Homo sapiens: one gene and its partners. The protein of the gene in region 1 binds, or shares a complex with, the protein of each later gene. Each region holds a gene or a part of one and is shown on either strand. Other genes may lie near its edges. A codon is read from its position in the direction of its gene.

The links.
Region 2: the proteins of CALCR (region 1) and RAMP3 are in contact, whole or in part, in a cryo-EM structure (PDB 8F0K), measured with the Homo sapiens proteins. Residues at the interface, in NP_001158210.1 of Homo sapiens: Arg45, Lys46, Met49, Asp50, Gln52, Tyr53, Lys54, Tyr56, Asp57, Met59, Gln60, Arg74, Thr75, Trp76, Asp77, Gly78, Asn124, Arg126, Phe235, Leu238, Ile242, Thr246, Gln257, Arg258, Trp261, Tyr262, Leu264, Leu265, Phe269, Ile276; in NP_005847.1 of Homo sapiens: Cys57, Leu59, Ile63, Tyr66, Glu67, Thr70, Tyr83, Trp84, Pro85, Gln90, Ile93, Thr94, His97, Arg98, Phe101, Ser102, Cys104, Val106, His110, Leu111, Glu112, Asp113, Pro114, Val118, Leu119, Leu122, Ile123, Pro126, Val127, Leu129.
Region 3: the proteins of CALCR (region 1) and RAMP1 are in contact, whole or in part, in a cryo-EM structure (PDB 9AUC), measured with the Homo sapiens proteins. Residues at the interface, in NP_001158210.1 of Homo sapiens: Arg45, Lys46, Met49, Asp50, Gln52, Tyr53, Tyr56, Asp57, Met59, Gln60, Gln61, Thr75, Trp76, Asp77, Gly78, Asn124, Arg126, Phe235, Leu238, Ile242, Thr246, Val250, Ala251, Gln257, Arg258, Trp261, Tyr262, Leu265, Phe269, Ile276; in NP_005846.1 of Homo sapiens: Trp59, Ile63, Tyr66, Arg67, Ala70, Asp71, Phe83, Trp84, Pro85, Val89, Asp90, Phe93, Leu94, His97, Gly98, Phe101, Ser103, Arg109, Ala110, Val111, Arg112, Asp113, Pro114, Ile118, Leu119, Phe122, Ile123, Pro126, Ile127, Val129.
Region 4: the proteins of CALCR (region 1) and GNAS are in contact, whole or in part, in a cryo-EM structure (PDB 7TYY), measured with the Homo sapiens proteins. Residues at the interface, in NP_001158210.1 of Homo sapiens: Arg180, His184, Glu240, Tyr243, Leu244, Leu247, Ile248, Val249, Val250, Ala251, Val252, Phe253, Glu255, Lys256, Ile319, Val322, Leu323, Lys326, Met327, Glu329, Thr330, Lys340, Lys343, Ala344, Ile347, Leu348, Leu351, Tyr391, Asn395, Asn396; in NP_000507.1 of Homo sapiens: Lys34 (codon at 4,651), Gln35 (codon at 4,654), Arg38 (codon at 4,663), Ala39 (codon at 4,666), His41 (codon at 4,672), Val217, Phe219, Tyr358, Phe376, Cys379, Arg380, Asp381, Ile383, Gln384, Arg385, His387, Leu388, Gln390, Tyr391, Glu392, Leu393, Leu394.

What each region holds. Positions count from the first base shown.
Region 1 is NC_000007.14:93,571,707-93,579,374, reverse strand, and holds the start of CALCR (calcitonin receptor isoform 2 precursor), read left to right. Parts: upstream 1-4,650; 5' UTR 4,651-4,683; intron 4,684-4,868; 5' UTR 4,869-5,086; intron 5,087-7,668. UniProt on the Homo sapiens protein: G protein-coupled receptor activated by ligand peptides amylin (IAPP), calcitonin (CT/CALCA) and calcitonin gene-related peptide type 1 (CGRP1/CALCA).
Region 2 is NC_000007.14:45,153,852-45,160,809, forward strand, and holds the start of RAMP3 (receptor activity-modifying protein 3 precursor), read left to right. Parts: upstream 1-3,939; 5' UTR 3,940-3,977; coding exon 3,978-4,035; intron 4,036-6,958. UniProt on the Homo sapiens protein: Accessory protein that interacts with and modulates the function of G-protein coupled receptors including calcitonin gene-related peptide type 1 receptor (CALCRL), calcitonin receptor (CALCR) and G-protein coupled estrogen receptor 1 (GPER1).
Region 3 is NC_000002.12:237,855,091-237,862,624, forward strand, and holds the start of RAMP1 (receptor activity-modifying protein 1 isoform 1 precursor), read left to right. Parts: upstream 1-4,532; 5' UTR 4,533-4,585; coding exon 4,586-4,637; intron 4,638-4,806; exon of another isoform or gene 4,807-5,117; intron 5,118-7,534. UniProt on the Homo sapiens protein: Accessory protein that interacts with and modulates the function of G-protein coupled receptors including calcitonin gene-related peptide type 1 receptor (CALCRL) and calcitonin receptor (CALCR). Required for the transport of CALCRL to the plasma membrane.
Region 4 is NC_000020.11:58,887,176-58,894,420, forward strand, and holds the start of GNAS (protein GNAS), read left to right. Parts: upstream 1-4,245; 5' UTR 4,246-4,551; coding exon 4,552-4,690; intron 4,691-4,987; exon of another isoform or gene 4,988-5,331; intron 5,332-7,245. UniProt on the Homo sapiens protein: Guanine nucleotide-binding proteins (G proteins) function as transducers in numerous signaling pathways controlled by G protein-coupled receptors (GPCRs).

The DNA of each region.
Region 1 (7,668 bases):
CTCTCAGTTCCCTGTTAATGATATTTTAACATTGTCAGTATCTGAAATTAACAATTTACTTCTTATTTTGTTTGTTACCTATCTCCCTCTTCCCACTAGAATATAAGCTTTGAGGCCGCAATTTTTCATTATTTGTTGAATGAATTAATGAATGAATGTCTGCGTACATTTGCTTCTGCAGTATTTTTTCTGGCTCCTGGGTTTCCCTTTAGAATTTTATTTAAAATATAAGAAATGGATATTTCTGAACTTCATCAGAGATGGAGCAATTAGTTTCCACTGCTGCTTTATGGTGTAAGTCCCTGCCATCTCCTCCTACTCTGAGTTATTTACACATTAAGTTAACAGTTAACCAAAGTGAAGTTTATGTAAGTACAATCTGGAAAGACACTTCCTAGTTCAAGTGGAATTTGTTTTTTCCATGCCAAAAGACACGTTCTCTAGAGAAACACAGCCGTGTCACACCCTTGGAAAGATGAGGAGAGAAGAGAGACTTACAAGTACCCCAGCTCCTGTTTCTGAAAGACAGGTGGAAAATCGAAGCAGGACACTTCCTTCAAGAGAGCATGATTTATCAGGTCAAAGTTCGAATTGTTTTCAAAGGAAAACATTTATTTTTCACTAAGGCAAATTATTATTTGCCCTGTCATGGTGAGGCCTGTAAATCTAGGAAGAGTAATTATATAAAGAATAATTACCAGCTGTTGTCTATTTGGAAGGAGACTACAAGAGGAAGAAACAAATGTTCTTGAATAGACTGTGGGCTTCTTGAGGGTAGGAGCTGCATATTGTGCTTTTTGGGTCCCCCATAAGCGGCTAGCCAAGGGTGTTGTGAAATTATGTGGTGTTAAATATGTACTAAATTACCAACACATAAGCATAACGGATTGAGCTGGATTTCAATGTAAGGAAAACTTTGCTGATAGGGAGCTATTCAAGTTAACCATTGGATTCCTGAGAGAGTCCAGAAATTTTTTCTCTAAATTCCTGTTAAAAAAAGAATAAACTCTATTTAACCTTACAACAATTTTTTTCCAAGAAGAACTAAATGACTTTTTTCAGTCTCTACAAAGTGTGACCTCCCTCACATTAACCATATTTAACAGGAATAGGTATTAATAGAGCTAGTCTTTAATAATGGGCAATCTTCCCTCCATTCACTGAAATTCAAAACTTTAGTGATTTTTAAGGAAAAGTCACTGAATTCTCGAACCATAAGTGTCCAGAAAGTGGTATGTATGGTTCAAACTCTGGCAAACCTTGCTTGGAAAGACAGAGTTGAGAGGTCAGATAATCCTTTGCTAGTGGCAGAACTTCACACCCTCAGCAATGTAGATGGAGGGTTTCATAATTGAAGTGGAGTTTGCATTGAAAAGTCTGTAGACAAGATCCACAGAATACTTCTCCCTAAATTAGTAACTGTCCAAAGGGGAAATTTTCTAAAGAGGAAGAGGGACAGAGAGAAAGGGGCAAAGTATCATAAAGACAGGGGATTTTAAAATAAATAATCAATAAAAGTACCAGGAATGTGTGACTACCACATTTTAAGATGCTTATTTTATGAATGCCCCTTTGATGAACTAATTTCATTTGAAAGCTTATTTGCAAATATAAGGTATTCCACTTGAAGAATAGCTTATTCTAACCCAGTGTCTTTAGGTATTTTTGTGATCTACAGAAAGAAATACATTTTACTTTGCAATTTCATACACAGAGATAGAGAGAGAGAGAGAAATAAGACAAGTTTCAAGAAACCACTCTTGTGCTTTCAAATGGCGATGAACTCTGATATTTTCTATCCTATTCCACTTCATTTTTTAAATGTTACTTATGCCCACTAACTTGATTTCAAGATCCAGTAATGGGTCTCATAACATTTTCAAAACAATGCCAATTCCCCTTATCAGACCATCCCCATGTTAACATCCACCCTCCAAAAACTTACCACACTGTGTCCATGTAGGAAATACTGTGATAATATTAAGAAAGCAGTAGACTTAAATTTCTGTAAAATCCAAGTGTTTCCAACAGGTACATAACCCCTTTGGTGTTCAATAAATATCTGTTACTGACAAAGTCAATTTAATCTTCTTAGGGGACAAGAGAGCTTCATCCCTGATCTTGCTTCTGCTGTGTCACCTTCCCTGAAATATTCTGCCTACAGAGAACTCTCATTGTTTCCCCCAATATTGTATCTAACACAGTTCACACTTTAATCAGCTGAGGTTGCTTATGCTTAGACCACAAACAGTTTAAAGTTTTATGATACACCCATGCCATTTTTCTCAATAACTTTTAGACTTTGTTTACATTATGGTTAAGGGCTGCATCCCACATATATTCATTAGATTTATAGAATCAAGCCCATCCTGCTCTCAGAATACTGGTTATCAATATCAGGTAGGCTGCCCTAGGATTTAACCTCCAGCGGAAAAATCTCCTTGTACTTGTTCTATCACACAATGCCGAGGGCGGCAACACTTTCTACTCAGCAATAGTCTCCCTGAATCATTGTTATTTCAGTGACTTGGGCTACAACCTGAGAAATTCTCAATGTTTGGCCCCAGCAGTTGACCATAGGAGACTCTCAAACAACTTTAATATTTCTCTGCTGTTTGCACCAAAAGAAGGTAATTAATATTCCAAAAGAGAATTCTTAAAGGAGGTCATGGTCAAGTGTTGGCTGGTCAGGAGCAGTTGGAAAGCAGGGAGCTATTGAACTCAAGACAGATTGAGCCCAACCCAGCACGGAGTGAAGATTCCTATCTAAGTTCTGAATTCGGAAGGGTTTCTTATACAGGCTTTGTTTAAGTTACTGTGTCTGTGTGTGTGTGTGTGTGTGTGTGTGTGTGTGTGTGTGTGTGTGTGTGTGTGTGTGTGTGTATGTTCCTTTCAAAGCCTCCTTGTCTCCCAGTTGCCCAGCCTCCTTTCCTAGTCACATTTCTTACTGCTAACAACATCATTCTCACTTATCCTGGGAATGAAGGGACTGTACAATCTTCCTCTGCAGTGAGGCAGTGCCTTAGGGTTTGAATGCACAGTGAGTCACACACAGCCCTCTGGGTCACCAGACTGGAGGTGACAGGGAAGGGGGGAGTATATAGAGGAGGGAGCCTGGAAAAACAAAATCCCTGGAATGTTGGGTGGGAGAGCTGATCTGATCCTTGAGTCTGTCCTCCACTGGATCTCCTGAAAGCCTCAACCACACAAATTAGGGGTCCCTGTTGTCTCTCTGGGGTGGGGTATGAGGATTCAAAATAAAACAGGAGCATGCAAAATAAAACGGGGACATTTTTTGCCTACAGTCACTGATGTTTCCATGGAAGAGCTCCAAGGATGGTTGGGTGAGGGCTGCAGTTCCATTCACAGGACACCTCCTTCTCTGTCACCCGGTGTTGTCCCGTGTGCTTATGAGAACCTAAGATCACCAGGGAAAGTGTGCTGTCGCCGTCTGGCTTTCTTCCCCTCCCATTAAATGATTGCTATTATTTCTTTTGCCAAGGAGACAGTGTTTAGTAACCTCGACGGTGCACGGCCACCTTGTGGTCCCGGGACGCACCGGATGCTGTTTTCTTAGTCCAACACCGCCTAAACAGAGTTAGGGAAAAAAGTGTTGGCTCCTGCCTTGATCCACCCAGTTGTGGGCTAAAAGAGGTTGAGGGTGACTCGTCCTTGGAATCAACTTGCCTGCCTCCCAGGGCGTGCCTGCCAGCCTCCGCTGCGCCCCGCCTGGTATTGGATTGTCCCGGACTCCTGCTGACATCGAGGGCTTTAGGGGGAAAGAAGAGGAGTCGCAGTGTCCGGCACCAAGTCAGGCACCCCATATCCCCGTCTTCCCTCGCCATCCTCTCTGTTTTCATTCACCCTAAAACACTGTGCCCACCAGCAGTCCCCTACACGGAGGGCACTCTTTCTCCAAATCCAAGTTATGCCTCCAGCCTACAGCCGCCCAACTCCGGACGCTTTCCCAGGGCTTGCCTGACCCCCAAGGTGTCTCTTCTCATCTCCTTCCTCTCAGCACTTTTTTCCTTTTAGCACCCCAGCTCTTAGCCAGCCGTCTTCCCACGTCCTCACCCCACTTTCACTACCTAGCCCACTACCGACCCTCCCTCCACAGGCTCCCTAGTGCTGTCCCCGGAGTGGCGGCTGAAGAAGCCAGGGTCACAATGTCTCTGGGATAAGGTTCTTGTGGAAACTCACCTCCCTCCGGAATTTGCATTCTCCGGGGAGGGGACAGGGCTCCCAGAAAGCTGTCTCCCAGTCCAGACTGTCGCCCCCCTCTCCCTCCCTACTCAAGGTCTAACTCGGGTCCCTCGCCTGCTTCCTGTGTTTACGCGGCGCTTTAGTCTCCCGGACTCGCAGGGTGAGCCCCAGCCCTGACTGGAGCGAGACAGCAGCCGCGAGCGCAGCCCCACTCGCGGGCCGGGGCGACTGGGGCTGGCGCGAGGCGCACGGAGCTCACCAGCTCGCCCCTCCCTCTCCTGGGACAGGAGGGGGCTGACTGGGGTGGCGGGGTCCGGGAAGGGGGGCTGGCTCTCATCAATTCTGCTGCCACCTCCTCTGCCGCCTGTCGGGAGGCGGGCGGGGGTGGGGCGGGAGCGCAGGCTAGGATTGAGACTCTTAAGTCAGGAGAAGTTTGCGCACAGCTTCACAGCTGGGAGAGCGCAGGAAGGCGCCGGGAAGGTGAGCCTCCTGGACTCTGGGGAGGTAGAAAGCAAGCCAGGGGAAAGAACAGTTGTCTTTTAGCTGATAATACAACCTAGACTTGGGTCTGAACCACCTAAGACAGATTTAAAGTGTCAGAAAACCAGGAGAGGGGCGGAGAGGGAGGACTGAGACTAACGCAGTTTGCTCTCGCATCAAACTAGGAAAGCCAGCCCACCAGCGTCTGGGTGGGCTGCGCCGCGCGGCTGGCGGACCTTCCCGGGTTGGAGAAGTGCGCACGTCCGCACCTCACCCTGCGGCTGACATCTCCTGCCCAGGAGATGGGCGCTGAAGCTTGAGCGCCTGAGTCCCTGGAGCCACACCTGCGAACACCCTTTGCTTCTATTGAGCTGTGCCCAGCCGCCCAGTGACAGAATTCCAGGTAAGGAGCGTTTGGAAATGAGCGGGACTTAACGATTTGGGGTGTCCAAGGGATGTTTAACAGTGCAGGTGCTATAGGCACCTTGCTTTTTGATTATAGAAATGTGGTTTGATTGCGGTGCTTGTGGTTCTCATGTAGGGTCAGCTAGGTCTTAGATGCTTTACTTTACCCTTGTCAAAGAAAAAAGAAAAATAGGTGTCCTGGGAAGAGCCAACAACTTATGGTTTCGTATTGAAGAATCGTTTGATTTCTTGTGACTTTTACTATGTTGTTCATATCAATTTTCCCTCAAAAGTTTTATTCTCCAACTTATTGGGTAGGAAAATTACGGAGGTTAAAGTTGTGAATTTTCCCAAAGGGTGTTTATTAACTGACAAACATATAATATCAGCATCTATAAGATGTGTCATGGTTGTTCTGGATATTGGAAATGAGCACAGTAGTGAATGGAGTTGCTTGTTAAGTCATGTTTTACAGAGAATAGTTTTCCAACAATCATTTATGCATAGCAGCCATTCTTCACACCTATTAGGAAAAATATGTTGTGTGCATAGTTTCCAAAAGAGTACTCTTTTTCATGATGCTCTTCCCAAGCCTGGGTGAAAGACATCAAGAAAAGCTGTAACAAATTAATTCCTTTTCTCAAAACATTCATTTTCCTTGAGGTCCAAGTCAAAAATCAACAATACAATTGAGATTAGTAAACTATCATACAGACTTTATTTGGCAAATCTACCTAAGAAAAGTTTCATATGAAAGCTTTAACCTAATACTATGTGACATATGCAAGAAGAGAACGCAGGGTTTCACTTGCCGATCTTAAGGAGACCCTGACTATTTCCAGGCTGTGGTTAACCGGAATCAAGTTATCTATGTAAGGCTATTTGTTGAAATTATTCGGTGATTGAAGGTGAAATGTTCAAAATAAGTCAAAGTTTTACAATGTAGTTCTTAAAGCTAATCTTTAAATTACAGAGCGTCCGAGTTTAAGTCTGTCTTAAATGATCATAGAAAGCAAATATTTTATGTATTTGGGCCAGTTGACTTACCATTAAGGACAAAGTAGGAATGCTTTTAGTATTATGGAATTTATAAAGTGTAATTTCTAATAGGATATTGCTAGCCTATGAGTTCAGTAGTAAAATAACTCAGCTTTAAAAAGTTGAGATTGCTGGTTATACACCAGTATTATGAGAGAAACTAAGATGATTAGATTTGTAAAACCTTTACAGTTTAAGTTGGTATTCTCAGTGGATACTCATTTCTACTCAATATTTTAACATAACTCAAAACATCCATCAGCCAGGATTTGTTCTGGTTCAATGCCTCTAACCTGTAGTTTATTTTATGAACTATAGCCCAAGAATAATATCTGGTCATATTATAAAATGTTCTAAGTTTATTCATTGGCTACATCAACACAATAAGTAAACAAGAAATCTTCATTATAACCAGTTTATAAGAACACATAGATAATCTTGGAGTTGTTTTGTTTCATGATTCTCAAAGTTAAAAAGAAATAGCTGATATAAATACGTCTTCTGTTTCTCATTTTGAAACTGGAGGTAATGATTGATGGTGGATGGAGAGCATTTGCTCTAATCAGTTGAAGAAAGGGAGCTAACTATTAGTTTAGTTGTGCCATGGCAATTCTGTTCTTGATGAACCTCTCAGACTCTGTCAATGTTAACATGAATGGAAATATTATCTACTGTTGGTTTTTATTAGAGTCCTAGTGAAATGGAAATAGGAGACCGGTAATGGTTTCAATGATAATCTAAATCAGTATTCTCAACTCGGGCTGCAAATTAGGGTTAATAGGAGAACTTTCAAAAAATACGGATGCTCAGCCTTACCCCAATTCAATCAAATCAGAATATCTGTGGAAAGGGTCTGCAATTTGATGTATTTCTTTAGGTGATTGTAATATGCAACCAGGATTGAGAGCCACTGACCAAGAGGGTTTCCACCAGACTTGGTAGAACTCATTGATGTGGGAGGCTTTTGATAAAAATAAATGTTGTTTGTTATATCGCTGGTCAAATAGTTTTTTCTTTAAAAAAAAGAAACATATATGTATAAACATACATATATATGTATAACTTGATCTTACAATTAGAAGAAAAATATTTTAATATTTGATGTTAGATATTTAGACCGTAACAGCTTCTCGGAAAAACATTTTTTATCCAGAAAACAAGCTATTGAGTTTGAAATTGATCTGCCCATCCAGAAAATGTTTTAGTAAATGAACTCCAGCTTTAAGAGATGTTGAAAATAATACTTGATGAAACATACAATTTCATCTCCTTTTGCTTAAGACCTGTATACTGTGTAAAGTACAAATACGTACCCTTTTGAAAGAGGAGAAAGAGGAAAATAGCATCATTCCCCTTGGCACACTAACTACCATATACCCGGTGCCAATGATAATCTAGTACTTTTACAAAAAATATGTTTTAAGCTAAGAGTAGCCTTGTGAGTTACAAGCTATTATCATTATTTTATGTATGAGGAAATTGAGGACCCATTAGATTAATGAACTCGCTCAAAGCCACGAACCAAGTAAATTAAAAATATAT
Region 2 (6,958 bases), about 48 Mb from region 1:
TTAATGTATTTTCCTCAAGACATTTTCTGATAGGTTTTTCAAAAATAAAATAAAATGAAAGTAAACTTGCTTCATTGACTTAAAAAAGGAAATGAATGGCAGATGAATGGGTAAATGAAATGTGGTCTATCCACACAACAGAATATTATTCAGCCTTAAGAAGGAAGGAGGCCGGGCGCAGTGCTTCACACCTATAATCCCAGCACTTCGGGAGGCTGAGGTGGGCGCATCACCTGAGGTCAGGAGTTCGAGACCAGCCTGGCAAACATGGTGAAACCCCATCTCTACCAAAAATACAAAATTTAGCTGGGCGTGGTGGGAGGGCCTGTAATCCCAGCTACTTGTGAGGCTGAGGCAGGAGAATCGCTTGAATCCAGGAGGTGGAGGTTGCAGTGAGCCGGGATGGCACCATTGCACTCCTGAGTGACAAGAGCAAAACTATGTCTCAAAAAAAAAAAAAAGGAAATTCATCTCAGCCTCCACAGTATCTGAGACTACAGGCGCACCTCACCACACACGGCTAATTTTTGTATTTTTTTTGTAGAGGCGGGGTTTCACCATGTTGCCCAGGCTGGTCTAGAACTCCTAAGCTCAAGCAGTTAGCCCACCTCGGCATCTCAAAGTGCTGGGATTACAGGCATAAGTCACCACACCCATCCTAAAATGCTTGATTTGACGTTAAGTATTTTTTATTGCAATTAAACAAATGAGCAAACAAACGCAACAGGAGATGGAAGGCTGTGTCTTGATCCGTGGGAAGGTGGAAAACAGCTGAGGGTCAGAGGCACCCCTTCCTGGAATCTCCTTCATCACCCTTCTTTGAAGACCGGTCCTCTGTGTCCCTGGAGAGGGGTCACCGAGGCGTTGCTGCTGCCTCAGGGACAGAGGCGTAGTCTCATCGACAATGATACCGTTATTTCAGTGTCTGTCCAGCAGGGGGAGCCAGGTGCCCGGGAATGGCTTCCCTTGGCTCCTTCTCAACCCCCACCCTCCTGAAGTCTAGCCCCAGAGCAAGCAGAACCAGATCCCAAACCTCACCAGGTTCTGTGCTCAGGCCCTTGCCTGGACACGTGGACTCCGGGCAGAAGCATTACTTCCAGGGAGAGTGAAGGCCCAGCGGCCATGTGTTCCCCTGATCTGGTAGAAACACCAGGATGTTATTTCTTCCTCTTAGAAGAGGCCACTTGAGTGTCAAGAAAATGTTCTCTTACAACTATTTAAGAATAAGAGGAATCACAGAATAAATATCATGATAATGGTGAATCAGGGCTTGATCAGGAGAGAGACTACACCGCAACCTGAATGGGGAAGTTTGGTGTAAAGAATTATGAACCGGCCGGGCGCGGTGGCTCACGCCTGTAATCCCAGCACTGTGGGAGGTCGAGGCAGGAGGATCACCTGAGGTCGGGAGTTCGCGACCAGCCTGACCAACATGGAGAAACCCCGTCTCTACTAAAAATACAAAAATTAGCCGGGCATGGTAGCACAAGCCTGTAATCCCAGCTACTCGGGAGGCTGAGGCAAGATAATTTCTTGAGCCCCGGAGGCAGAGGTTGCAGTGAGCCAAGATCATGCCATTGCACTCCAGCCTGGGCAATAACAATGAAACTCCTTCTAAAAAAAATATAAATAAATAAATAAATAAATAAATAAAATAAATAAATAATTATGAACGCTAAGAGGGGATTCCTGAGAGGACCCCAGTGCACACAGGATCGCAGACACAGGGAATGGTGCCGGGGCCAGCACCCACCGAGGGACAAGCAGGGAGACAGGTGCTGTCCAGGGCACACCCCATGGTCAATCTCATTTATGGCGGCAGCCTTTCCACACTCAGGGTCGGGGGGATGCACCGTGGAAGGGGCAGGTCCCTCTCTCCCATGGCTCAGCTCCTCACAGCCTGTGTTAAACCCACCTGCCCTGCAGAGGCCATGGGCACCACTGGGCACAGAGAGGAGAAGTGAGGGCCCTGCCTTAGAGGGACCTAGGGGCAGTAGACACAACTCCCTGGGAGTTTGTTGGGGCATGGTTGGTTCCATGGAGGAGAGGTGTTGGAACCCAACTCTGTAGAATGGCCAGGGCTTCCCCACTGCAGAGCCAGGGTGGGGAGTCCAGGAAAGGGAGCATTGCTCCCTGGTGCAGGCTTGGGGGAACTGGCTGCCCCCCTCCCACCTGACAACCCCATCCTACTGTTCCAGCCTGCAAGCTATGTGCAACCGCCTTTGGGGCTGTGGGACCGAGTGGAGACTAAGACTCTCCTGGAGAGAGCTGTAGGGCCGAGTCTGTGTGGGATGTGGGTGGACACCTGGGCCTGGACCATCCTCTTGGTTTGTCTTGGCTGGTGTAGGGTGTGCGTGTGTGTAAGCCAGCCCCCTGCTGCCCTGGTCAGCTTGTTTTATGACCCCTGGCCTGTGGGCAGAAGGCCTGGCTGTGGGCACCATCAGTCTCACTAGAGGCTCTGTGGCCACCCCTACACCTGCTGCCCACCCCTCAGGCAGAAGGCAGGACAAATGATCAATTTTAATTAGTTTTGACTCCTTTGAATTAATTCTGGCTGTAATCAGAATTTCTTCAGTAAAAAAGCACAGAAAGTTCTTCTCCCGAATAAGGGTCTTGTTAAATAAAGTGGGTCTTTCTAAGCCAGGAGAAGTTCAGCTCAGCTCCTGGGAAGGTAGCAGTACCTACGGCTCAGAGGAGTGGAGGGCCCATCCATGTAGGAGCCTGGGCCTGTGCCCCAACCTCAGACCAGCATGTGCCCCCAGGGGTGGTGGGTGGGCCCTGGAGGGCAGAGAGGTGCCTCTAGCTGGCTCTCGGAAGTCCTGACCAGTGACAATTCTTAAGACACCATTAAGTGTCCACTGGAGCCAGGGCCTGTGCTAGGGGCTGAGGGTGACAGAGGTGACCCATCTGGCCAAGTGACCTGTGGCTGGAGAAACTGAGGCCCTCCTTCGCCTCAGGGACCCTGACACTCTTCAAGGCCAGGTCTTTGGTGGTGCCAGATACTCTCCTGTCCCTTGGTTTGCTTGTGGCTTGGTTCTTGGTGTGTGATACGTCTCTGTGTGTGTAGTTGCCACACCCTCCAGTCTCTCTCATACACACTGTTTCCCAAGCATACACTCACAAACACACCTTGTCTCAGACTCAAACACACACATGCCACACACACACCATACATCACACACTCCATGCACACACATGCATCTACACACACCCCACATGCACATCACACACACGTACTCCATGAACAACACACACACGCACACACACAGACGCACACACACACACCCCCCAACCTCTTTTATGCACTTTCCTGACCTTTGGAGACCTGGCTCCTAGATGTATCTCTGCTCAAAGTTCCCCTCCCTGCCTGGGGGCAGCTCTGGACTCTGGTCTACTTTCGGCCAGGGCACACCTAGCCCACTCCCAGGTCCACCTTCCTCCAGTCTACCCCCAGACTCCTCTAGGCCATCATCAGCCAGCGCTTCATCCTCACCTCAGCTCCCTCCCCGGTCTACCCCCACCCTCTGCCCCTGAGCCTGGACGGAAGTTCCCCAAGTCTCTCCAGCCTGCATCCCAGCCCACCGTCAGCCGGCCCCCACGCTCACCCCAGCTCACCTCCCAGTCTGCCCCTACAATCTGCTCCCAAAAAGCTCCTTTGCAGCTCAGCACCCCAGCCCCGCCCTCAGAGCCCATCAGCCGGCACCCCACCTTACCCCAGCTTGTCCCCAGCTCGAAACCCTGCCCTCGCCCCCCTCTCACCCCGCTGAGACTCCAGCCGCCCCCATCCCTCCCACCCGGCGCGCCTGCAGGGACTGCACCCCACATCTGGAGGCAACGGGGCACGGCCGCAGGCGTGGTCTGGGGGTGCGGCCTGAGGGCGGACCCCCTGAGGCCCCGCCCCACCCCAACCCCAACCGGGCGTCCCCCAGCCGCGCCCCCAGCGGGACCGAGCGTGACCCAGCTGCGGCCGGCCAGCCATGGAGACTGGAGCGCTGCGGCGCCCGCAACTTCTCCCGTTGCTGCTGCTGCTCTGCGGTAAGGGGGCGACGGCCCGCACCGGGGGCGCCCCCACTCCTCGGGGTTCACCGGACCCGGGTGGACCCGCGCCTTCCCGCACCTGCGCCGCGGTCCTTCCCTTGCCCCGGAGCTCGGGAGGGGCGCACAGTGACCCTGGCGGGATTCCCAGGCTCTGCGGGAGGGTTCCACCCGGGAGAAGCTGAAGGCGAAGGACTCTGGCGGGCAAGGGAGGCACAGGGCCCCCTCCGGGGTCTTCTGACGGCAGGGTCCGGCAGCCCCCGGTCCTTCTAGTTGTGATGTCCCCCCACGCCCCGGTTCTGGGGTCGCCTCAGGGTGGGCGAGAAGAGGTGGACCAGGTCTGGCTCTTTACCCCTTATCCCCCAGGGTGGGCTGTCTGTAAGGTAGTGAGCTCTCTGTCCTGGCATTGAGTGCCTGCCCACCACTCACAGGGGCGTGGGCGGGTGGACTCCGGACTGGGTAGCTGGTCCTCCCAGGGCCCCTCAGTGTGTGGACGCCTGTGTGTGTCCTGGAACTGGCTGAGAGGGGAAGCGGGGCGACTCTCTGAGCCATCCTCTCCTAATGCCTTCTTCGGCAAGAAATCAGGACTCTAGGAAGAACCATTGCTCACAAAATGGAAATAGATTAAACTAAAAGCTTGTTTTGAAGTACCTTGCTAAAGAAATTATCCAAGAAAAAGTAAGAGAGAGAGAGAGAGAGAGAATGTGTGTAAAGGCTGTTGGGGAAGAGTGCTTGCTGAGGGCTGGGGTCCACTGAGTGGTGACTGAGCCTGGCCAGTTCTGGGGGGGACATTGGTGATGGAGGGCCCTGGCCTGGTGGTCCCCAGTTTCCCTGGCTGTAAGATGCAGAGTTGGGCCTGTTTTGATGATTTGGGATTTGGTACGGGAGGTGGGAAAAGGGTGGACCAAACTCAGTGGTCATTTTCCTTCCATTGAAGAGGTCTTGGTGTGCAGAACTTGTGTGGCTTCATTTGGTGTTCCAGGGCTGGAGCCTAGGATGTGGTGGATTTTGTGTTGAAGTGCAAAGGTGGATGGCAGCTTCTGAAATCAGGAGCATGCTGATTTGGGATTTCAGCAAACTTCCAGTGAGCGCCCCTTAGGTGGAGATCTTGGTCGCTATAGTGGAAGGAAGGTCCTCTCAATTCATTCTGGGAGAAGCTGAGGCTTTCCTGATCATCTCCAGTATCAAATTGAGAAGGACCACAGGCTTCCGCCTGCACAGAATCCCCCCTTAATAATCCTGTCTCTCGTGGACCCAGTTCCTGAGGGCCACTTCTTTGTCCTGTTGTGTTGGTCCTGACTGTCCCCCTCCAATGGGACATGGGTTCACGCTCCCTGGCCAGAATAGGGACCAGGTCCAGCTTCTCAGCAGACCCTCCCAGTGTTCGACTGGCCAGAGTGAGATTCAGGGAGAGGTAAAACTTGCTCATGGTCCCAGGCCGATGTGTCAGAGGTATCCGGGACTGGAACCCACATCTGCCCTGGATGCTGCTGTGTCTGGAAGGAAGGAGCTGGGTGGGTTCCTCTTGACTGAGGACTAGCTCAGGAGGACCAGCAGGGAGGGTGCAGGCCTCTGGGGCTTCTTTGAGAATTCCAGACCTTTTTCCAGAAAGCATTTGATGCTGTGTGGGGCTGTGGGGATGCGAAGTCCAGCAGTTGTCTACTCAGCAGGACACTTTGCTGTGGTGCCCAGCTCTTGACTGGACTCTTCTGGTCTGGGTGAAAATCCTGATCATGATCCCAAGATTATAAAGCACTCACTGGCCTCAGTTTCCGAGCTGCAATGTAGATGTAATAATAGCAATCTGTAAAGGGCTGCTGAGACCGTCAGTTTGATTCCATTCAGTTTAGTCCCTATCACCTTGTGTTGGGCATGGGATTGTGGGGTGGAAGGGTTCATGCTTAAACAAGGGGAGGTATGGGAAGGCACCCACCAGTGACTGCACTGGGCCTCATGAGGCTCACTCACAGCACCCAAAGATGGAGCACCATAGTGTGTGTGCCTGTGTGTGCAAGCGTATGAACATGGTACCATCGTTTTTATCATTAAATGATGTCCTGCTGCCATGTTACCTGTGGTCATATTGATTCTACTGAATCAAGTGGGCCCAAGGGCCATGGTTGGATAGCAGTAACTCTGGTGAATTAAAGACTTGGAGGTGGCCGGCCGGGTGCGGTGGCTCACGCCTGTAATCCCAGCACTTTGGGAGGCCAAGGCGGGCAGATCTCGAGGTCAGGAGATCGAGACCATCCTGGCCAACATGGTGAAACTCCGTCTCTACTAAAAATACAAAATATTAGCCGGGTGTGGTGGTGCATACCTGTAGTCTCAGCTACTCAGGAGGCTGAGGCAGAGGAATCGCTTGAACCTGGAAGGCGGAGATTGCAGTGAGCCGAGATCATGCTATTGCACTCCAGCCTGGTGACAAAGCGAGACTCTGCCTCAAAAAAAAAAAAAAAAAAAAAAAAAAAAAAAAAAAAAAAAAGACTTGAAGGTGGTGATTGGCCAAGAAGAGGCCCATAGATTTTTGGCACTGGAGGTTCCTTGGAGGTTATCTGACCTCCATGCTCTTACCTATTCTTCATAAGGAAACAGAAATCTGGAGGTTAGAGAGGAAGTTGCCCAACCACAGAGACCAGGGGCAGAACCGCCCAGAATCCACAGCCTCCCAAGGTCGACTGACCGTGGCCCATGGCAGCCACTTGCCAGTCTCGTCGATGCTCTTTCTGTCAAGGAGGGGGAGAGCGCCTGTGTTTCATTTCCAAATGACTAGCCACAAAAGCCCTTTCTGGCGGAAATGCATCTGTTTGGCTGTTTATCATCTCTCAGTGGCGTCTGGAAGTCCCTGAGACAAAAGAAACACAGGCCGGCATGTTCTTTGTTTCCCAATGAAACCAACCAAAATGGATTTCTATTTTGATTC
Region 3 (7,534 bases), on another chromosome or scaffold:
AAACAGATTTACTAACTGGAGTACGTCATTTGTGTACAGTTCTTTTGTCTTTTGCTCTTTTGTCTAAATGTGCTTAGGTTATGTCTTTTATTCCTGATCCACCCAGGGTGGCTATGTTACACATTTGTAATATAGTCTCCTAGAGGTTAGGGGTTCCTTCAGTTTGTATGTCTGACATTTCATGTCCCGGTTTTCTGCAGTAGCTCTAGATGGACTTGTCTCTTGTTTGTCTCTATGGTATTGGGGTATTTTAAATTTTTCACGTCTAGAGTGTTAAGAGTTCGTCTTTCTGGAGATTGTTTCATATCACCCGTAGGCCTGTTCATCAGCCTCCCTCTTGGCTCCACGATTTTTCTCAGTCTGCCTTTGCTCACACTAAGCATGTGGCTGGCTGAGGGTAGTATAGGAGTGTGAGTTGTGTAGTGGGATTTGGTGGGAATTTTTTCCCTGTTACTCAGCTCCTTTGCAGTTGGAAAATTCTCCAAGTAATGCTGAGGACAGTTTTATATAGAATTTATTTTTCACTTCTTGTTTTTTGTTTGTTTTGTTTCTTGGGGGAATAGGGGAGATAGGCAACTTCTGTTCTCAGCTACTTGCAAGTGTGTTGGTTTTAACAGTGGGACTTCCTGCAGGACTTGAAAAATTGATAGTTGATGAACCTGAGTTCCCTGAGATACTGCTGTTTTTGTTAGTGTTTATCCAGCAATTGCACGATTTAAACAACTCACAGAACTAAGTTGTTATTGCTTATAAGCATGTTATCTTCAGAACCACTGATTCATTATTGATAATGATTGAAGTTCAGCCTTTAAATTGCAGGCCTGATAGTGAGGACACCAGTGGAGTCTTCCCCTTCATATCAGCAAGTTATTGAAAAACTATCTGTAGAATATTTGATGCTTTTTTCCTTCCAGTACTTAAAAACGTTCCATTGTATTCTGGTGGCATTATATCCCATGAGAACTCTTCTGTCACCCTTACCTGTGTTTTGTACATCAGCAGTCCCTAGCCTTTTTGGCACCAGGGACTGGTTTTGTGGAAGACAATTTTTCCATGGGGTGAGAGGGGGATGGTTTAGGGATGAAACGGTTCCACCTCAGATCATCATTCTCATAAGAAGTGCAACCTAGATCCCTTGCATGAACAGTTCACGGTAGGGTTAGATCAGCTACTGCTGATCTAACAAGATGCGGACCTCAGCTTCACTAGCTCACCCGCTGCTCACCTCCTGCTGTGAGGCCAGGTTCCTAACAGGCCATGATCTGGTACTCCTGTGGGGTTGGGGGACCCCTGCTATACGTAATGTCTTCTCTCTCTGGCTGCTTTTAAGGTTTTCTCTTTATTACTGGCTTTAGGCAATTTGATCGTGATGTGCTTTCACATATTTTTCTAAATGATTTTTGTGCTTGGAGTTTGGGGATGTTCTTGGCTCATGGGTTAATAGAAAATGTTCCACATAGTGGTTTTTCACATATTTCCCACCCATCTTCCTCCAGGGGCTCCAGTTACACCTTAGAGTTGCCACCTGGAGTTGCCTCATGGCTCTCTGATGCTTTGTTCTTTTATTGTTTTTAAGTTACGGGATGTAATAGCTACTTGGAAATCATTTGCTCCTGTTAGTTCTTGCTTTTAAGTTTTGTTAGGCAGCACCAGAATAGCCTTTGTAATTTTTACTGACTACAGAGAGGGACTTGCCCTTCTAATTATGCTCTGATGTTCTGTGTATTTCAAGATTTTTCCACTATGGTTGGTGGGAACTGGAACTATTCCCAGCTGGGTGTGGGCTCTTAGGCTCTTTTCCCTTGGGTAGTGTCCTTAGATGTGTGGGCTGAGACTCAAGTGGGACCCTCTGTGATCTCGCAAGCGCATTCTTTGCGCAGCTCTTTCCTCTCTGGTACTATGCCCTGCCAGCGTTAACTGCCTGGCTTCCCCAGACTCTCTTTGGGTTTCCTTTCTCCATCTGTGGTCTGCAAACTCCAGGCAGTGAGCAGTTGTAGCACTCACCTTATTTGTTTCCCTGCTCTCAGGGGTCCCTGCACTTCTTGTGGTCCACTGTGACAACTGTTGTTTCATACATTTTGTCCAGTTTTTTAGTTTAAGATGGGAAGGTGAGTCCAGTCCCTGTAACTTCATCTCGGCTGGAAGCAGGAATCTTATGTTAATAGTGAATTTTTAGCAGTGTTGACCAGGCTTTGATTGTATCTTTAGCCCTACTGTGTATGCAGTAAAGCACTTGGCCATTTTCTAATCTCTTCTATTGTTTAACCTAATGCCCCTCTAGATTGAGGTACCCTGGGAGAGGAATGATTTTCCATGCTACCTATGACCAATTAGAAATACAGATACATCAGACTACAACTTTTGAAGACGGGAAGCCCATAGTAGTTGCTAAGGAATGTCTTACTTAGACCCAAGGTACAGACAGGAAAATCATTAGGAGAGAACATGCCTCTAGGTGTGTGCCTTACTTCAGCATTCTCCAGAGAACTGTGAATTTCTAAAGCATGTGAACTTGAGAAATAGGCTTTGTCTTCTTAGGAAAATGTATCCTTTAGGGGGTGTTGAGAAAACAGCAGTGACAGGGGCCTCTGGCCTTGCCTCCTTGCAGTCAAGCTTCAAAGAGAAAACGTTGGGAAGAAAGACTCCTGCTGAGCCTGATGAAAGAGGAGTCCCAGTTGCCAACCAAAAACATGCAGCCAAAGTCCACAAGCTACAAGTAGAAAGGGTGGCTCAAGCCAGAGTCCCTGGATATGGAGGGCGAGTGATGGCTGCAGAAAGATGCAGGTTCTTCTCCCCCACTATGACTGGCCATCGCCTAGTGCAGGATGTACGGTGGCCCTGTCCCAGGGCTGTGCTGGCAGCCACCCTTCCCCACTAGCTGTGCTGCTCTCACATGGCACGGCCTCTGGCTGCCAGGCCTGTGCTCGGGCCTGCATTTCCCTTGTGCCCTTCTCTCCACCCAGCCCTCAGGACTGCCTGGGCTGCATTTTGTCCAGAATCCTTTGTCTCCTTACTTGCACTGCAGCTGAGGCGAGTGTCCCTTGTTCCGGGTGGCTCCTGTATTGTGGCGCTCATGTTATTGAGAGTCTTAGAGGTCACCCCCTAGATTCACCAATTGAAGGGCAGGGCTTGTCGATCTAACAGTGTCTTGCACATAGGGACACAAATGTCTGTTAAATGAAGAAAGTAGGGATGCCAGGCCACCCAATGGGGTGTATCTCCTAGGGTTCAAGAACAAGGGCTAATCAAGTCAAGAGAATGTGTGCCCTCCCCCACCATCTCACCCCTCACTCTCAGAACACTTGGGGCCCCTGCACAGGTGGTAGGCATGCTGGCCCTGAGTGCCCTCCCAGCCTGTGTTAGAAGAACCAGTGGATGACCTCGCTGTCAGCTGTCTCCCCTTCTCTGAGCTTACTGCAGGTGGCAGCAGCCTCTCAGCCACAGACTGTTCCCTTTCCTAGGAGAAAACGATGGTCACTCAGCAATGCTGTGCGCTTGCAGCTTCCACCACAAAAGAGACAGCTGTGGCCGCAGCACCAGGGTGGTGATTCTTCCCCCTCCAAGGGCAGTGGTGCATTCCTTAGCACAAGTATAAATTTACTGTTGCTAAGAGTTCTCGGAACAGGATAATACAAGAAGGAACCACTGCAAGTGAAATCCAGCCACCAGTAATGCCGAGAGGCCAGGCCTGTGCCTCCCAAAACCTGCTCCTCCGCAGGCTTCCCCGGCCCATCTCCAGAGCGCCCTCCTCTCACCACTTTACATAAACGAATGTACCCAAGATCCCCCATCAGTTTTCCATGCAGCTGCCAGAGTGCCACCAAAGCAAACCTCATCTCAAGACTCTGTGGCCAGGCCCTCACAACCTCCTGCCAGGCTCTCGCTACCTACCCATCAACAGCAAGACTCCCAGGCCATCTCAATCCCCCCAAAGAGCCCTGTTCCTCCAGCCCCACGGCTTCTGTTCACCTGCCGTGCTGTCCCCGCCTCTGCCCACCCACTCATCCTGCAGATCTGGAGCAGCATTCCAGGGCCTGGTAAGTGTGCGCCATTTTGGGTTACTACGGGTCTCGCCAGGCGCGGTGGCGAGTTTTGCCCCCCACGCTCCCCAGCGCCTGCACCTGGGCGGAGAGGTAGATAAGGCTGGGAGATCTTAGCCTTTTGCAAGGCAAACACCAGGCAGGAACGCCCAGAACCTCGGAGGAGGAGGAGGGGAAGATCCCCAGGTGGAGACCAAGGTGCCCCTCACGCTGAGTCGTCTAGGAGACCCTCCCTAGTTTAAAAAGTGTTTATTTGCTCGGAGAACATTTCAGGAGGCCTTCCTGGGACCCCAAGTGTGCCGCCCCCCGGGAGGGGCCTGGAGACGCCCGCGCGGCCCCCCTGCAAAGTTTTACCGGCCCTGGGCGCCCCCGGCCCTGGCACCCACGCGGGGAGCCGCAGTGGGCCGGGCCGCGCGGCCGCCGCCTCCCACCGCTCCCGCGCCCGCTCCCGCCCCCGGCGCGTCTCCTCCGGGCCCGCGCCGCGGCGGGCTCAGTCCTCAGCGGGGCGCGTGGCGAGCGGACTCGACTCGGCACCGCTGTGCACCATGGCCCGGGCCCTGTGCCGCCTCCCGCGGCGCGGCCTCTGGCTGCTCCTGGGTGAGTAGGTCCAGGGGTCCCGGCCGAGCTCCCTTCCCCTGGCCAGCCGGTGTCCTCTAGGGGAGAGGAGGGGAGCGGGTGGGAGCGGGTGGGAGCGGGTGGGGGCGGGCGCCGCGGGCGCACAGATCCGCTGCCCTTGAACGCGGGCCGCCCCGGTTCCAGGCGGGAGGCCCCAGGGCACAGGGGAGGCGGAGGGCGCGGACCGGTGTTGCGCTTCTCGCCGGGGAAGGGACGGCTTTGGGGACGTCGGAGAGCGGGCATTCTGGAAAGCGTGGGGTGAGTCAGCCCTGCACACTGGAGAACTAGTTTTCAGAAGGAAAAACAGGACGCGGGGTTCCCCAGCCCCGCACCTCGTTTCTCAGGCTGTGCGCCGCGGTGACTGCCAGCGCAGGCTCCCTTCCCTAGGCCGTCCCGCGTTGCAAAACCTGCAGACGGGCACCTTGCAGAAGACGCAGTGTTCGGGAATCAGAACCACAGCCGGTTTGTATGGAAATTAGTCAACACTGACAATCTGTCGCCTGCAGCAGTTGCTTGTTTGCAAATCACGTCTTTTGCAGAAATGAGGCCAGCCCTTTTCGGGACACTTCCATCGCTTTTTTTCTTTTTTCTTTTGGTTTGCTTGTTAACTTGGCACTTTTGGCTAATAGAAATTTAAAGAAGGACGGGTCCCTTGGTGAAGTGGTGGAACACGTTTGGCTTTCCACTTGGAGGGAGAAGTGGAGATTAGCGGCAGCCTCATGGCCACAGGAACTGGCCACACACTCGGCAAGAAACGGTGCTGTTCACTTCCCTTGTCTGTAATGTGTTCCTAAAATGCTAACTCAAGCCCCTTCTAAACCGCTTTGGCTATTGCATTATTCCGTGTATTTAGCTACCTTTTAACGGAAACTGTGAATAGGTTACTGGCGTGGGAGAACCCAGTGTCCCTGGGAAGGCCGGAGCAGTTGTTTCTGGTATGTGTGGCCTTTCCCCGGAAACAGTGATGTTGGTCAGAGGCACCTGCCGCACAAGACCTCTTTGGCGCTGGCACTGGGCAAGCAGGGACCACCGGCGCTGTTGTAGCTGGGGGAGTGGTTCGTGGCCCAGCGAGGAGAGGGGCCAGGGCTTCTTGGGAGCCATGGATTTCTGTTCCCTATTTGTAAACCTCTCCAAGGGGTGGCAGATCTGCATAGAATCCTCAGAGGCCGATATAATATAATCTGAAAGCGGATCTTGCCACTTTAGAGTTTTGGCTGAAGTTACGTGGAAAGCAGAATCTCGCAGTAATTTTATTCTCTCCATTTGGCTTGACATGGCCTTCACTGTTTTCATTTACTAAGAAACAAACATTTCTTTGTTAGCAAGGCAGAGAGCTGGGTTGTGGAATATTTTTTACATAAATAACCAAATAAATAAACGTTCTTTACTAGTGTCCAGAGGCTGAACCCTCTAAAGCTTGTGTAAATAAAACACTATGTCACGATCACATATAAAGACCTTCCTTGTTTACCGAGAAAACTATTCATGTTCTGCCGAAAGTCCAAAGTCCTGTAATTTTAACGTTATTTTGAGTGGCCTGGCTAATGTTATCTCTTGGAAGAACAAACAAAACTTTATGAGGTTATCAGTAAATTAATGTCATTGGAGCCCAGCTGTAATTAGTAGAATTACTGAGCACAGGCTGTTTCCTTCCCAAGCTGTAGCACTAGCCAGGTCTCCTTGGTGATGAAGATTTTGCTACCAAGAATGGCAATGTGGAATTTTTTTAAGTACTCTAGTTTACAGGTTTAAGAACTTATCTGTGACAATTTTACAATCAAGCTATTTGTCTTAGGTAGTTATTAAGAATCTCATAATCCGGCCAGGCATGGTGACTCACGCCTGTAATCCCAGCACTTTGGGAGGCTGAGGTGGGTGAATCGCCTGAGGTGAGGAATTCAAGACCAGCCTGGCCAACATGGTGAAACCCCGTCTCTACTAAAAATACAAAAAAAATTAGGCAGGCATGGTGGCAGGCACCTATAATCCCGGCTACTTGGGAGGCTGAGGCAGGAGAATCGCTTGAACTCAGAAGGCAGAGGTTGCAGTGAGCTGAGATCATGCCACTGCACTCCAGCCTGGGTGATAAGAGTGAAACTCCGTCTCAAAAAAAAAAAAAACTTAGGATCCATATATAGTTCTTTTCCCTCTGAGCATCCTGTGTACTCTTCTGTTTACTGGAGACTCTACATGCATTCTGAAAAGTTTGTGTATAGACACCGAAAAGCTGTTCGTTAACCAGGAAAGAAGGATGCGTTAGAAGCCCCTGGTTTTTCGAGTCCATCTTCACTCAGGGAATGCTGGCTGGTGCTGTCACACATGAACTCAGTCACCTGTCCTAGGAAACGCATGCCTTCCTTGGCTGTCACGTGGGAGCCAGGGGTTTTTTTAATGGCTGCAACATTAATTGAAATGTATGACTTTATATAAATACAAGTAGAATTGGAATGACAGGGACATCACAGGAAATGCTATGTGACTGCTTCAGATTGCCATGCGGTTTTAAATCTGGACACAGTTCTCATGCCAAAGTCCAAATCTGAAGGATTCTTATTTGTTAATCAACTCAGTGTGTTTGTTTACCCTCTCTGTGTGTCTAGCTGCAGGAAGAAATTTCTGGATTTTTGTCTTCCTTCCACAGGCGCATGCCTGTCAGCGTGCTTATTACCAGTCCGAGGCCAGGGCTGTTGAGAAACATTTATATCCACAGTGCAAATGGTAGATTCAGCTCCGGGAAATGTTTTAGGTGGAATCTTTAGTTAAGGCTAGTTGGAAAAGTCTGTCCTGATTTTTTTCCCCAGAATGCGCCCATTTCATAGCTTCTAATCAGTTACAACTGGCGTCTGGCTGACTGTGTGATGCAGGTGCCATGTGTAGTG
Region 4 (7,245 bases), on another chromosome or scaffold:
CTCCTGGCATAAGTATCTAGGTTGTATTTGTTACTATTTACCTTGTACCTCTTAAAGACAATGTATCTGTGCTTTGCCACAGTAGAAGCAGGAAGGAAGATGCTTTTGAACAAATGGAGCATAACAAAAATGTCTGGCCTATTCTTCCCTCTTACAAGTCTTTAACAATTTTTAAAAATGACAATCAATCAAATTCAGCCAGGAATTTTTAATTTACCATCTAAAGATATAGAACCTGTGCTGTGTCATCAAGCGGTTCTAATTTAGGTGGTGGATGGTAGTGAGCCTCACTATCACTAGTACAGGCAGCCTAGGAATCATCGATTCTGAGGCCTTACTGCTGAGTTCTCCTATGAGCACATTCAGGTGTATCTGCACAATATTTTTATGCATCTTTGGTTAGGTGAAAAGCATCAACCTAGGATAGTTCCTTTGAGCATTTTCAAAATAAGGTGTATTTTTGTGTGGAAGAGAGGCCATCCATGATCAGGAGTGTGACAAAAACCTGGCCCCAACTTTTCAGCCAAGTTCAAGAAAGTCAGGGGTCTGCAGCAGCCCAGGGCAGGACGGTGTCTAGGCTGCGCTTCCTGTTCTTAATTCCAAGTGTTGTTTGGTGACTTTGAATCGCCCTCTGTTGTCTTTTCAGATTCATAAAAAAGAGGCCTTGTACAATGGGGGCAGCAGTGTACCTGAAGGGGCCAAGAAAAATAATATGTGGCATCTTCATCTGTCACACCTTTTCTTACTCGAAGTGGAGCAAACTGGGGAAAAGGGGGGAATTTCAGTCATCCGGTTGAATGGCTAACAGTGTCTTTTTATTTTCAAAGCTAACTTAAAATGATACAAGTTTGCTCAAGGCCTCTGGTGGTATCAGCCGCCCCATACCCCTGGGGACTGTTAAATGTGTTTCCATTTATAGGTAGACTTTTCTTTTTTCTCCTTCTCCATCAAACATCTTAAGTTTCATGGGCTCTGTTAAGAAGTCAAAGAAAAAGTTGGAAGACAGTTTGTGGACTTTGCATATCTGGGCTTTCCGGGACGTAGGCCTGTGTCCCATCCAAGACACTGCTCACGTCTTAGCCTGATTACCTGGCCGCCTCGGCTCACCTGGGCACATGGTGAGCCGCGGAACTGGCAGGCACCAAACATTTATTGAATGAATAAACCGTATCCCAGCAGACACCATGGTGGCAGCAGATGACCTAACCAAGGTCCCAGGAAAGGCGGGCTGGGGTCAACTGCTTGAAAATTTAGTAACCCTGCTCCTAATCCCGTGCACTGCTATATCCTAGTGTGCGGCGGGACACTTGAGAGTTTTGAAAGAACCCTCAAACAAGTTCACGTTCCGTAAACTACTTTTCCCTCTGTTCCAGAGCCCCCAGGGCGCCCAGGCAAGGCCGCCACCTCTCCCACCTGGGAGGACGCCTCGAGCACCGACTCCACAGCCACGGCCACCGCTCCTCGGCTCCCGTGACACCGGCGCGCCTGCTGCTTCGAGCAGGGGAGGCTTTGCACTCCCATCGCACTTTTCTCGTCCGAAGATACGAAACTCCGTCCGGGCGTCGCAAATAATTCGAATTCGGCTCTCTGACACCTACCTCGGCGGGCGCGCGCCGCTGGGAGGGCGGGGTGGGTGGCTGGAGGTAAGGAGGCGCACAGCAGGGGTAAGCGCCGCCGTCGCACACTTTGCACGCCGCCCAGGGCTACACCACTCACCGAAAATTGGGAGGCAGGTCTGGGAGGCGGGGTTGAGCGCCCACCGCCTTGGGCGCGCCCGCGCCCCCCGCCATCGCGGCCCCCGCGCCCCCGGCCCACGCCCGCGCGGTCCCGGCACCGGCCTGCACCCCCAGGGTGCGCGGCGGCCCATTTGGGTGCGTCCCCGGTGGGCCGATTTTTCGCGCTTCCCCTTCGGTTTATAGGGGCCGCTGCTATGGGTCGGTCCTCTGAAGAGGCTGGGGCGTCATCGGGGCCGGTTAGAAGCTCTGCTCCCCGGCGGGGACACTCAGTCGCGTCGGCACCGCGGAGCGGGCTGCGTCAGGTGGCTGGCCGGCGCGGCGCTCCCCTGCTCTCTGGCTCCGGGCTGCGGCGCGGCGGCTGGAGCGAGCCCCTGTCCCGGCGCGGGGCGGCGGCGGGCGGCCGGCAGGCGCTGCCTTGCGTGTGAGTGCACCTCACTCACATGTAAGTCGGGGAGCGCCGGGGCCTCCCGCGGAAGTGCGAGTCGCCCGGCGCAGGCAAGAGCCGCCGGGTCCGGGACAAGGCAGGGGCGCCCGGGCGCCGCTGCCTTGCCCCGGGGCGCCTCCGGGCACCCCCCAATTCTCTCTCTTTTCTCTTCTCCATTGGCGTGCCCAAGAGCCAAACCAAGGAGCGCCTGAGGGTAAACAGACTCCTGCCATCCGCGCCTTTGCACTTTTCTTTTTGAGTTGACATTTCTTGGTGCTTTTTGGTTTCTCGCTGTTGTTGGGTGCTTTTTGGTTTGTTCTTGTCCCTTTTTCGTTTGCTCATCCTTTTTGGCGCTAACTCTTAGGCAGCCAGCCCAGCAGCCCGAAGCCCGGGCAGCCGCGCTCCGCGGCCCCGGGGCAGCGCGGCGGGAACCGCAGCCAAGCCCCCCGACACGGGGCGCACGGGGGCCGGGCAGCCCGAGGCCGGGGGCAAGCAGGGAGCCCGGGCCAGGCGCGAGCCGAGCTCCCCGAGGTGGCCGGGCCACCATGCTGAAGATGGCCATGAAGCTCAAAGCCCGGGCGGCGGAGAGCGAGAAGAAGACGGCCGCGGCGGCTGCCGAGGTGGCTGCCGAAGCTGCGGCGGCGGCTGCGGCGTTGGCCGAGCCGAGAGAGCCGCTCGCGCCGCGGAAGAGCGGGGACCCCGAGAAGCTCGCGAAGAACCCCAAGAACCCGGCGCGGGAGGCGCTCCCCGAAAAGTTCCTAACAGACAAGGAGCGCAAGAAGCTCGAGAAGAAGCTGCTGGAGCAGAGGCGAAAGGAGGAGAAGAAGAAGGAGAAGGAGAGGAAGAAGATGGAGAAGATGCTGAAGAAGAAGAAGAAGAAGGTGCCAGAAGCCCAGGAGGAGGCCCGATGCCCCGAGGCCGCCGCCGCCGCGGCCGCCGCCGACGACGACGAGGGCGCCGAGGAGGGCGCCGTCGGGGGCGCCGAGGAGGGCGCCGCCGCCGGGGGCACGAGTAGGGCCTGGGCTGACTGGGACACGGACTCGAGCGACGAGGACGACGCCTACTACGCGGCGCCGCGCGTTGGGGGCATCGTGTGGCGGCCCGGGCCGCTCAAGGCTGGCGCGCTGAGCGCCCACCTGCCCCTCGTGGTGTTCCTGGTCTTCTCGGTGCGCAGCCCCTCGTGGGTGCTCAACTTCCTGCTGCAGAAGCGCACGGAGCAGGGCCGCGGCTGCGGCTTCGTGTTCGGGGCGACCTGCTGCTTCCGAGTGTTCCTGGGCTGCGCCTTCTTCTCCTACTTGGGCGGCCGCGCCAAGCGCAGAGGCCGCGGGCGCTCCGGGGCCAGAGGCGCCTTCGGCTCGGGCCATGGCGCCCGGCGCCGGGGGCGCGAGGAGCGGCTCATCTAGTCAGACCCCCCACCCCGCCACCGCCACCAGACACCACCATCGCTGTGTAGTGTGGGTTTTTATTCGTGTTCGTGTGTGTGTGTGGACACATTTTCCTTTTCGGTTGCTCTGTCCTTTGGTTCGTGCTCGCCTCGCTTTTTCCACACTCCTGCTCTCTGGCTCTCTGTGTCTCTCGCTCTTTCGAAAATTTTCCTAAGTCCGGGCGCGCGCTCCCTCCCCTTCCGCCCACCCCAGCCCCTCGGCGGCGCCCGCGGGAGGGGGAGGAGGCCTCGGGGGCGCCGGGCGACGCGGTCCGGGGGGTGGAGCGTTGGCGTCGTGCGAGGGGTCGTCACTGGCGCGGAGACGCCCCCTCTCCCCCCTCGGCTCAGCCGGGCTGCTGCCCGAGCCCGGGGGGTGGGGGGCGTCTCCCCGGCCCGTCCCGTCCCCGGCCGGGCGCGGGCGGAGGGACCCCCTCCCCGGGCTCCCGGGGGGCCGCCTCCCTCCGCCGGCTCCCGCCCTCCCAGCCGCCGCCGCCGCCGCGGCCGCTCCTCGGCCCTCCTCCTCCTCCTCCTCCTTCCACCCCCCTCGCCGCCGCCGCCTCCTCCTCCCCCCGCCTCCCCCCGCCCGCCGCGGCGCTTTTGGCTCGGGGCGGCGGCGGGGGCCCGGCCGAGGCAATAAGAGCGGCGGCGGCGGCAGCGGCGGCAGCAGCTCCCGCAGCTCCTGCTCTGGTCCGCCTCGGCCCGGCGGCGGCCATCAGCCCCCTCGGCCTCGGCTCGAGGGGCGGGGAGCTGCGCGCGCCCCTCGGTCCGACCGACACCCTCCCCTTCCCGCCCGTCCGCGCGCCCCGCGGCCCGCGGCCCGCAGTCCGCCCCGCGCGCTCCTTGCCGAGGAGCCGAGCCCGCGCCCGGCCCGCCCGCCCGGCGCTGCCCCGGCCCTCCCGGCCCGCGTGAGGCCGCCCGCGCCCGCCGCCGCCGCAGCCCGGCCGCGCCCCGCCGCCGCCGCCGCCGCCATGGGCTGCCTCGGGAACAGTAAGACCGAGGACCAGCGCAACGAGGAGAAGGCGCAGCGTGAGGCCAACAAAAAGATCGAGAAGCAGCTGCAGAAGGACAAGCAGGTCTACCGGGCCACGCACCGCCTGCTGCTGCTGGGTAAGGGCGGGCGGGGGGCGCCGGCCCCGGCCCGGGGGCCCTCGAAGGGCGCCCCGCAGGCCGCGCGCGCCGAGCCCGCCCCCCGCCCCGGGCGCGCGCTCCCGAGCCCCCCGCCCGTTCGCGGGCTCTGTCTGTGGGGGGCGAGGCCGGAAGGGGGACCCAGGGGCGCGGATTCGGCCGGGCGGGGGCTCAAAAACGGGGCGGGGGGCCGTGGCGACGCGGGCGCGGGTCCCCCTCCCCCGGCCTGCCCGCTCAGTGTCTCTCTCTTGCTCTCGCTCTCGCTCTCCCCCTCTTTCTCTCTTTCTCTCTTTTTCCGCGAGGCCTACACGACGCCAGGGGTTTGGGTGCGTGTTGGGGAGGGGGAGGGGGAGCCCATGGGGCTCCGGAGACTGCGACAAAAAGAGGGTTTCGGGGACAGGAAACCGGGTGGCGGGTAGAGGGAGGGGGACCCGCCTCCGTGGGGTGTGAGATTTGTTGGGAGAGGGAAAGAGGGGAAGAAAGGGGCGAGGAGAGGAGGGGGTGACGCTGGGGGGCGCCGTGGTGGCGGAGGGGGCCTCGCCAAAGGGAGGCTTTGGCGGGGAGAAGTGGCCGAGGAGAGTGGGGGGGCTGGTGACATCAGCCCCTCGGAAAGGATCGGAGCGGTAAAGGTGGTGCAGTGGGGGGGAGGGGGCGCAAGGGAGTCGTGGCGCCGGAGTCGGGAGGGGGGCGGCGAGGGGAGGAGGGAGGGCGGTTGCCGCTGGGCGCGACTTGGTGCGTTTCGGGCAGGACCGACTGACTGTGTGTGCGCGGAGCAGACGTGTCCCGGGCCAGGCCGGGCCGTGGAAGGAGGAGAAGGAGAGTCAAATAAAATAAGACCACCCCCCAACACCAAAAAATGGATAGAGTTAGTACGAGAAGTGCCCAGTGAAGCCAAATGACACGTCATTTTACAGTGTGACCTTTTTTTCCCCTTCCAGACTTGCAGGCTTTTTCAAAAGCAGAGCGGAGAATTAATTGTAGCAGCTGCCCCCCCCACCCACCACGAGCAGCGCCCCCCCAACACTATTTTAATAAACCATTAAAAAAAACACATTTTCCTGCTGGCTGGCCACATTGAGAGTGCTTTGTGAAAAGAAAAAACAAAGACATTCACAAATCAGATAAAACTGGAGAATGACATTTGTCTGTAAATGGCTTCTTGGTCTGGAAATGGCGTGGTTTCTTTTTTTTTTTTTTTTTTTTTTTGTCCTCCTCAAGGTGGGAGGGGGGATTGAGAGTGCTCTAAGGAGACTTTTCCTCCAGGTGGGAAGAGATAAAAAGACATTAATTAGTTGTTTATCAAGTGACATTTAGTTGTTTGGTTTTGGGTTTTCTTTTTTTGATTGCGATTTTTCCTCTGATTAAAAAAATAATAATAAAATAAAAAAAGGTTAACTATAAGGAGATGGCCTTTCCTCCTTTTTTTTCTTAAGGTGCTGTTTTGGGGGAAAAAAATGTAATGAAATGACCAAAAGAATTACACAGCATTAATTAAAAATGGAAGTTTTCCACTTCCTTGATAATTTGGCTATCTGAATAAATTTGTGAATTTGCTAGGTTAAGACCTAGTTCGTGGTCACATTTCAACAAAACAGCTTGAGTATAAAGAAAATAATAAAAGGCTGTTCTTATTTATTTTCCTTTGGTGGCTTTTGGTTTGCTCTTTTTGCATAGGTCATGACTTTGTTCTCCTGGGTCCAGATTTATAAAAGCAGAAAATTACTAATTAAGTCAAAATAAGTGTCTTTGGTGTTTATGCATTTGCAATTTCAGTAATTAAATGGTACATGTGTTGCTGTCTTGTCTAAAACTTTTAAAGGCAGAATTATGCTGTTGGGATATTAGTATGCGTATAACTTGATTTCAAAGTATAAATCTGGAAAAGTCTAGAATCTTTTCTGTGAATGCTATCTCAGTACTACTTTAAGTCAAGTGTGATGCTAATGATATCTTAAAATTTCCAACACCTTTTGTGCAGTGATCACAAAGTCTCCACTTAATTTGAGACTGTTACTCAGAACACGCCTTGCGTCACGGGGGCTAATCTAAGTGTCCTAGTCTATATGACTACATTACATCATGATGTATTGATTGCCTCTGGCCTAGGAATCTGCAGCTTAAGCCAGTGACACAATATTTTGCATTTTTAAATGGTGATTCTCACCAAATAATGCCTCCCCACAAAAGAGGAAACCTAATAATGCCCCAAATCCTCTTTTTACTCCATCTTAATGACATAAAAATTAAGTGAATTAGAGAACTACAATGATCTTAAAATAATTTTTCAGCCACATTTCATAAATGTGGAAACTGAGGCACGGATCTGTTTTTGCCTATGAAAGATAGGTCCTGTAACTGTTACACAGTTTAACACTTCTGAAATTAGAATATTAGAGATCCTGCTAAATATTACGTATTGTTTCCTTGGCCTCTCTTAATAGTGCCATTTATATTTTTAATTTACCAGAGTTAGGCTCATTAAGATAGTGTTTGCTTTGAAATCAATGTTTCTGTGGAAACTAATTTTAACTTTTACA